Linked DNA regions of Homo sapiens. The protein of the gene in region 2 interacts with the protein of the main gene of each other region in a biochemical or structural test. Each region holds a gene or a part of one and is shown on either strand. Other genes may lie near its edges.

What was found.
Region 1: the proteins of MYO10 (region 2) and RAPH1 form a complex in vitro, tested with the Homo sapiens proteins (one large-scale study listed by BioGRID).

What each region holds. Positions count from the first base shown.
Region 1 is NC_000002.12:203,455,181-203,458,991, forward strand, and holds part of RAPH1 (ras-associated and pleckstrin homology domains-containing protein 1), read right to left. Parts: intron 2,416-3,811; coding exon 2,350-2,415; intron 401-2,349; coding exon 257-400; intron 1-256. UniProt on the Homo sapiens protein: Mediator of localized membrane signals. Implicated in the regulation of lamellipodial dynamics. Negatively regulates cell adhesion.
Region 2 is NC_000005.10:16,933,474-16,937,839, forward strand, and holds the start of MYO10 (unconventional myosin-X), read right to left. Parts: upstream 2,816-4,366; 5' UTR 2,336-2,815; coding exon 2,315-2,335; intron 1-2,314. UniProt on the Homo sapiens protein: Myosins are actin-based motor molecules with ATPase activity. Unconventional myosins serve in intracellular movements. MYO10 binds to actin filaments and actin bundles and functions as a plus end-directed motor.

The DNA.
Region 1 (3,811 bases), on a different chromosome or scaffold from region 2:
GTCCCCAAAAAACAACAAATAAAACTATGATTTCAAATTTGGTAAAGAGAACTGAGATAGGCTCAACTAGTGACCAGAGAAGTAAGAACTTTCAGGTTTCTTCTTCTTTATAATAGATTAATAAACAAAGCAATATTCTATGTCTTCCACGAACTGAAACAAATCATAGCCTGGGTTCACCTTGTCAGCATACTCAATACAAATTAAAAGCAATTAGCATAATGAGGAAGTTCAAATTCCAACAGAAGGGACACACCTTTGCTTTTCCTTTGGGAACATAGTAGATACCAGATGCTCGCAAGAGAAAATAACGCTTTTTCCAGGACTTCTTGCCATCATCCTTCAACCAAAGGACTCCTTCAATTTCTGGTACAGTTACAGAACTTCCACAAAAACATTCCTAAAATAACAAGATTATTTGCAAAGACTTATGATCGTTGGATTCTCAGAACAAAGTTGTGTTTACTCCTGTGAAATGCATGACAGTTATTAAACCAAAATGGTTTTATATTAAAACCAAGCTGCTAATTTAACCTCAATTAGAACTTTCCAGCCAGGTGTAGTGGCTCATGCCTGTAATCCCAGCACTTTGGGAAGCGGGTGGATCACTTGAGGTCAGGAGTTCAAGACCAGCCTGGCCAACATAGTGAAACCACGTCTCTACTTAAAAAAAAAAAAAAAAGCCAGGCATGGTGGCGCGAGCCTGTAGTCCCAGTTATGTGGGCAGCTGAGGCACAAAAATTGCTTGAACCTGGGAGGCGGAGATTGCAGTGAGCTGAGATCACACCACTGCACTCCAGCCTGGGCAACAGAGCGAGACTCTGTCTCAAAACAAAAACAAAAACAAAAACAAAAACAAAAACAAGACAAAACACTTTCTATTCTAAACACAATATGAATTTGGAACTACTATGGCAATCCTAAAATGTTTATTAAATAAAAATGCCAGTCATACATGTAATACTGAATTTTTACCTACAAACTTTTAACTAAAACACTGTTTCGGAGAAAAACTAAGTTGACACATGAACTGAGTTGCATGTAACAGTAGTTAAATACCTTTGCAAACAGCACAGTTACACTAAATTTAATAAAACTGTCAGGGCAAACCAAGCGTTAGACTTTATTTTTTCTCTACATTTAGATTAGCTGTCAAACTAAACAGGAATATATTTTAAAAGAATGCAACGTGCTAAGTGTATGATTAAACTTTAAGAATTTAAAAACTATCCATTTATGTGACTCTAAGACAAAGAGGGCATTTATTTAAAAAATAATACTAGGTTGAAAGGACTATAAACACTCAAAATTCTAAGTTCTAAACACTATGCTTTGATAAAAATCTAATATTAAAGAAATCAATCATGTATTTGTGAAAGAAAAGAGAAATCCTCAGAAAACACTAATATAGGACATTTGGGCCTAAATTAATTTTTCTCCTCAAAGTACAGAAAAATTAGGAATTACAAGGCAGATTTTTACTTAACCGTAGTTAGTATCACTATGAAAACTGAATGTTGATCTTCGCTTCCTAATTGCCTTGCTGGTAAGTAAGGGTTTATTCAGGTTTTCAAGTATACTAAGTTATTTGATTTTAGTTCTATAAAATCAGCCAAAAATTCAATTATATTTTTCCAAAAAATGATCATGATTTTAAAAATTATTTAATTATTTAAGGATAAGGCTGGAAATAATTTGTGAACAGCTAATTATATTCAAATTTCTCTCTGAGTAAGCAGATAAAAACAGCAAAACCACATCCTTCATTGACCAGCCACCTCTCCCACTTGGCAGCCCCTAAAAGCTCATTATTCTTAGATCACTAGAATATGGCTTGGCAAAATAATAAAGGGTCTTCAGTGGCCTAACACGTTCACACAGTTGAACTCTCTCCCTCATACTATCAAAGAATACACAGGCTTCTTTAATTAAAATTGTAACTACAAATATAGAACACTGACATACTTGACTTCAAAAAGGTATTTAATATTTTATTTTATTTATTTATTTATTTATTTATTTTATTGAGACAGAGTCTCACCCTGTTGCTAGGCTGGAATGCAGTGGTGCAATCTCGGCTCGCTGCAACCTCCGCATCCCGGGTTCAAGCAATTCCCTGCCTCAGCCTCCCGAGTAGCTGGGATTACAGGCGCCCACCACCACGCCTGGCTAATTTTTTTATTTTTTAACAGACAGGGTTTCACCATCTTGGGCAGGCTGGTCTTGAACTCCTGATCTTGTGATTCACTCACCTCAGCCTCCCGAAGTGTTGGGATTGCAGGCGTGAGCCACCATGCCTGGCCTAATATTTTAATTTTTAAATGTGCAGGAAAATGGGGGTTGTCATACCTCCAAGAGGACTTCTTTGTTTCTATCTGCCATCTCAGCTGTTTCTTTTTTCCCCAAAAGATAATTCTGGAAAAACAAACATATGGAAGGGATGGGTGGGAGAGAAAAAAAGAAGGTTAAAGCATAAATCCATTCTGTTATTCCCTTGGCACAGGTGTGTGTATGTTTTCTTCTAGAGAAATAGCAACTCTGATTTCTGTTGGTATAGAGTAGAATAAACTTTGAAAAGTTACCTGTGTATGGGCATCATCACTAAAATGCTTAACACCAGTCTCCTCCTTGCCTGTCCACTTGTCATAAACTGTCCTTACCCAGACTGTGAGGTGGTATTACATTCAACAGCTGGCAAATATGTTTTGGGATATCTAATGAAAGCTACGTTAGAGGATCTGAAAGGTTTAGAAATTCATAAGTACAACAAGTAAGGCAAATTTCCTTAAAATATACTGATCTAGGTGCAGAAAATTTATGTTCTGGCTTTTTAAGAAGAAATCCCATATTCTCTGGGACTCATTTATTAATAATCTCATTTACTTGACTCAACTAAAAATCTGAATTCTGGCTGGGTGCAGTGGCTCACACCTGTAATCCCAGCACTCTGGGAGGCCAAGGCGGGTGGATCACGAGGTCAGAAGTTCAAGACCAGCCTGACCAACACGGTGAAACCCCGTCTCTACTAAAAATACAAAATTAGCCAGGTGTGGCAGCACGCACCTGTAGTCCCAGCTATGCAGGAGGCTGAGGTAGGAGAATCGCTTGGAGGCGGAGGTTGCAGTGAGCCAAGATCACGCCACTGACTCCAGCCTGGGCAACAGAGCGAGACTCCATCTCAAAAAAAAACAAAAAACAAACAAACAAAAAAATCAAACTGAAGTCTACTCATTAGTACACAGTCATCCCTTGTTGTCCATAGGAGATTGATTCTAGGATCTCCCCTGTATACCAAAATCTGCTGATGCTTAAAGTCACTTATAAAAATGGGGTCACATTTGCATATAACCTATGCACATTCTCCCTTGTACTTTAAATAATCTCTAGATTACTTACAATACCTAATACAATGCCTACCTATCATTTAATTTGCATGAATTCAATGCAGTACTCAAGCGTGGCATATTCAAGTTTTGTTTTTTAGAACCTGGAATTATTTTTCTGAATATTTTAGATCTGCAGTTGTGCAAATCCACAGATGCAGAACCCATGGATATAGAGGGCTGACTGTACTTCTTTTTCTTTTTCTCTTTTTTTTTTTGGAGACGGAGTCTCACTGTCACCCAGGCTGGAGTGCAGTGGCACAATCTCGGCTCAGTGCAAGCTCCGACTCCCGGATTCACACCATTCTCCTGCCTCAGCCTCCCAAGTAGCTGGGACTACAGGCGCCCGACACCACGCCCGGCTAATTTTTTGTATTTTTAGTAGAGACAGGGTTTCACCGTGTTAGCCAGGATGGTCTCGATCTCCT
Region 2 (4,366 bases):
CTGGCTTTAAACTGTTGTCCAACAAGCAACAAGTCATTTACCCCTAAGCCACAATGGGAAAAGTTAGCAAAGACAGAATTCTACTTAGTGATAAGGAGGCCAAACAATTTAGCTGTCCTTGGGGAATATATCACTTCCACACTCGCTGTTTCTATTCTAACAGGACATTAATTACAGCATTTTCTTCACTGGACAATTTAACAAAAGGATGCTCCATTACAAGACATGAGAGAGAGAAAGGGGAGCTGGGATCTATGTTAAGAGTATGTCTACAATTAATACCTCACTATTTAACCTCTCTGACTGGCCCTGCTTCCTTCCCACTCAAAGTGATTAGATTTAAGGGTGGAACTTTCACGGCTGATTAGAAGTTAATATTGTAATACACATACATCACAAGATTAAAAGTATAACCTTAAAATAAGCGAAAAGTTCCCAGAAATACCAAAGTCACCAGCAGCAAAGGAAAAAGGCTCTGGATTCGTGAACAAGCTCTTCAAAGCTGGGCAAGGGACTTACTCATATCTTTGGGTTAAGATTCTGTCTACAAAATGAAGAGGAGAAAGTAGAAGATCACTAATGGCCAACTGCAAAATAATATTGATCACAGAAATAAAATCCAACAACCAGGCCCCTTACACTGAACTAAGGTATCCAGTGCAAGATGAAAAGAGTACTTTGAAAAGTCAAAGTCTCACCGGGTAACAGGAGATCAGGACGCTGTAGCGCGTTATCCTGATGTTCCCCCCACTTGCACTAGGGGGCAGAGTTCTCCCCAAGGGGGAGCCACGGACCCCTGTGGTGCTCAGACAGGCTACAGGAGGAGTGAGATCCGTGCAAACTGAATACAAATTTCTATATTTTCATCAGATTTTCTAAGGGACCCAGAACACAAAAACAACAAAGTTAAGAATCATTGCCCTAGGGGCAGGGCCTCCGTTTTCTTACAGATGCAAGCAATTAAACACCGGAACTCACTGTAGCCCGAGGGTCCTTTACCACTGGACAACGTGCAACTCTTGCAGAAAGTTCTGGTGCCTTTCGACAAGCATGAAAACAAAAGTCTATGGACTAGAAAATGCGAGCGTCTCACAATTATATATATTTCACTTTTTTTAAGAAAAGGAAAAATATGTATTGATGGATAATTCCTTTCTAGTCTTCCTTCCACAATGAATGTGGGTATCACATCTGAAACACCACTTTTAAAAACTAGATATGACTACTAAACAAGAATGCATTTATCACTTTGGCCAGTATGAATAGCTGTCTGAGAATACAGTCAGTGAGCATGCAGAAAGCAGAATGACTTGAAATATTATATCCAATTAAATCAGATAAACCAAGTCGGCTAACACAGAGGCAAGCCCTCATCAATCTGATTTGCTGGAAGACTCCAAAGCGGTTCTGCACTCAGAAAACATTCCCTGGCTTTCAACGAAAATCACATCAGACTCTCTCAAGTCAACTAAGTTTACTTTGAGCCACTTCAAACCTCAAACTTAAACAGAATTTATTAAATAAACACAACCAAGAAAGGAAAGGGAGCCAAGAAACCACAGTAAGTCTCGATCCCAAAGGGGGAAAAAGGGTTCTCAAGTTAAGTTTCAGTGTCCCACCCTCAACGACCCTAAAGAGGGCATCCGTTTCATCTATTAAAATAGCCACTGTTTGCCCTAAACGAATTTTCTTTACATTCGAATTCAAAATCTGCATGGACACTCTACACAAATACATGATCATTTGATCCCAGGGTCTGGAGTTATCCCAAGCCTTAAAAGAGCACTTCTCGGCGAGCAAAGTAACCGATTAAACCCTTGCCTCTCCTTCTCACACTTCATTAAGCCGTCTCCTCTGGAAGTGTTTGAACCCCTGCACAGGAAGCCCGCACGTTTTGCAAAGGAAATACCAGACAAGACCTTTCTTGGAGAAAGGCAGGTCCCCGCTGAACATTTTATTGGGCTTCCTGCACCCGGGCAGTCGAGCGGGCGGATCGCCCCGCCCGCGCCCCGGCGCGCGCCGCCTCACCTGGCGCGGGTGTCCCAGGGCGCCCCGAGAGCCAGCCACCCACGCAAACGGAAACGCACCTTCGCTACCTCCCGGAGCAAAATGCGAGCGCGGGACAGGACGAAACAAAACCTGCCCGGGCTTACTCATCAGAGACTCCGCGGGGGGATGGGGGGTGATTTCAGGAGACTCCCAGAAAGTTGCGCCTTCCAGGGCTTAGGAAAAAGTACCCAGGGCGCGCGGCGTGGTGGGCAGACGCCTCTCTCCCTGGGCTCCGGAGGCCAGGTCGGACTGGGAGCGCACTTACCTCGGTGAAGAAGTTATCCATTGTTCCAGCGCAGTCCCGGACTCGCCGAGTGCCGCTCCGACTCGCGGAAGTCAGCGCCGCCGCGGGTCCGGGGAAACCATGCGTGTCACGGCGCCACTCCCGAGGACGCGCGCCCGCGGGGCTCCCCTGCTGCCATCGCCCGGTCCCTTCTTGTCCTTCTCACCTTTTGTTCGCCCAAACCCAAGTCCCTAACTCGCCCGTCCCGACGGCAGCCTTTGTCTCTTCTTCCTCCAAGTTCCTCACTACTGGGCGCAGCGCTCGCAAGCGGAGAACAGCTGGTGGCACATTCTTCCCCCAGGCGGGGGAAGGCGGCGGGGTGCTGGCGAGCGCGGCCCCCTCCCTCTGCGCTCCGGCCGGGGGCCCTCGGGGCGGGCAGGAGGACAGCGGGCCGCAAAGTGAGCAGGAGCCGCGATCCCCGCGCGAGCGCTTGGAGGTGAGCAGTCCCGCGCCGCGGCTCAGCCAGCTCTCGCCCGCGGGACTACAGCCCAGCGACCTCGCCCCGCCCTCCCGCAGCCGGCCCCGCCCTCCCGCAGCCGGCCCCGCCCTCCCGCTCGCGGCCCCGCCCCCAGGAGCTTGGCCCTCCGCCAACCACACCGTCTGGCCCCGCCCGGGCGGAGCGCCCCGCCCCCTTCCCGACCAGGCCCCGCCCACTCTAAGCCCGAAGCAGCCGCAGGCTCGTTAGCGGACCCGGGAGGGGGCCGCGTGTTTCCCCAGGTCTTCCCACGTAGGCGTGGGGAGGGGATTTAACTCTTCCCTCTGCAGAGAGAGACTAAACAATCACTTAGAGGGGAGGAGAAGGGACTGGGGGCTTCTGTGCCTTTCATGTTTAGCAGACCCGGGAACCGGCTCAACACGGATCTCATTAATGCAGCCCGGTAGACTAGCAATCTCGGGAAGGAAGCGCGGTCAGCGGAGCTGCCGGGGCTGCGGGGCCAGATCAAAGCGGAAGACGGAGGCTAATCAGAATTTCTGGAAGCTGCATTCCCGTGTTGACTTTCTGTCCTGCAGTCGGGTTTGCTTAAGACGTTTGCGTAACAGCGGGGAAATGTAGTTTTGAAACTGGAAGGGGACGTGGCCAATATCACCTTTAAAAATGTAACCCTTTTCTAGACCTCAAGGAAGCAGAGATGGCAGATGGCACTGAGATGGACGAATGATCAAACCCACCTGGCACTGAGTCCCGTTTCCCCTAGGGCAGTTCTTTTAACTTTATGCTGTGCGAGGGTCACCTGGGAACCTTGTTAGAACGCAGGCTGGAACAATCTGCTTTCCAGGTGCCCCTCAGGTGCTACCTGGTCCTGTGCTGAACGAAAGCTTGTAACAAGTAGAGAAATTAAGAGTAAACGTTTGTAGCAATTTAATAATGCCACGACATCCAAGCACATGATCAGTGGACTCTTTGAACCGAGTATAAACCAGTTTGGGTGTTGTCAGACTCACGTGGTGAGTCACACCTGGCGCCGCAGTGTATTGGTACCTGGCCGACTGGGAACAAAAATGGCTGGTTCTTCAGCACAAAAGATTTGAGATGCTCTCTCCAGGGAATTTGCCAACTGCTACTCAACCTTTAAAACTCAGCTCACAAAGTCACACCTTCCAGGGGAAGGAACCCTTCCCAAAGATGCTACTCCACTCACCCCACCCAAGCTCCCCGTAACCACTGGGCTAGATGCCCACTCTAGGATTTATTCCTAAGACTGTTGGGGAAGGACTGTGCTTTAAGATGAGTATCCCCAGGCTGTCTCACAGCATGAATGAATGAATGAAACATCCTTCTGTAATCCTTATGGGGAAAGTCAAGCATGTTTGTAACTTATCCCAGTCCAGTTCTTCACCATTAATATCATTGCTCCCACCTCACTTCCCTTTAGAAAGAGTCAAGGTGTAAATTAGTTAATGATATTGTGCAATGTTGTTCTGTTTCACAGGTTTACACGCTTAAGGCGCTGAGCCATTAAAGCTTGTGTCCAAGGTCGCAAGGAAAGTGAAGATGGAGTCAGGATAAATACCAACAATCCCAGTGCTTAGTCA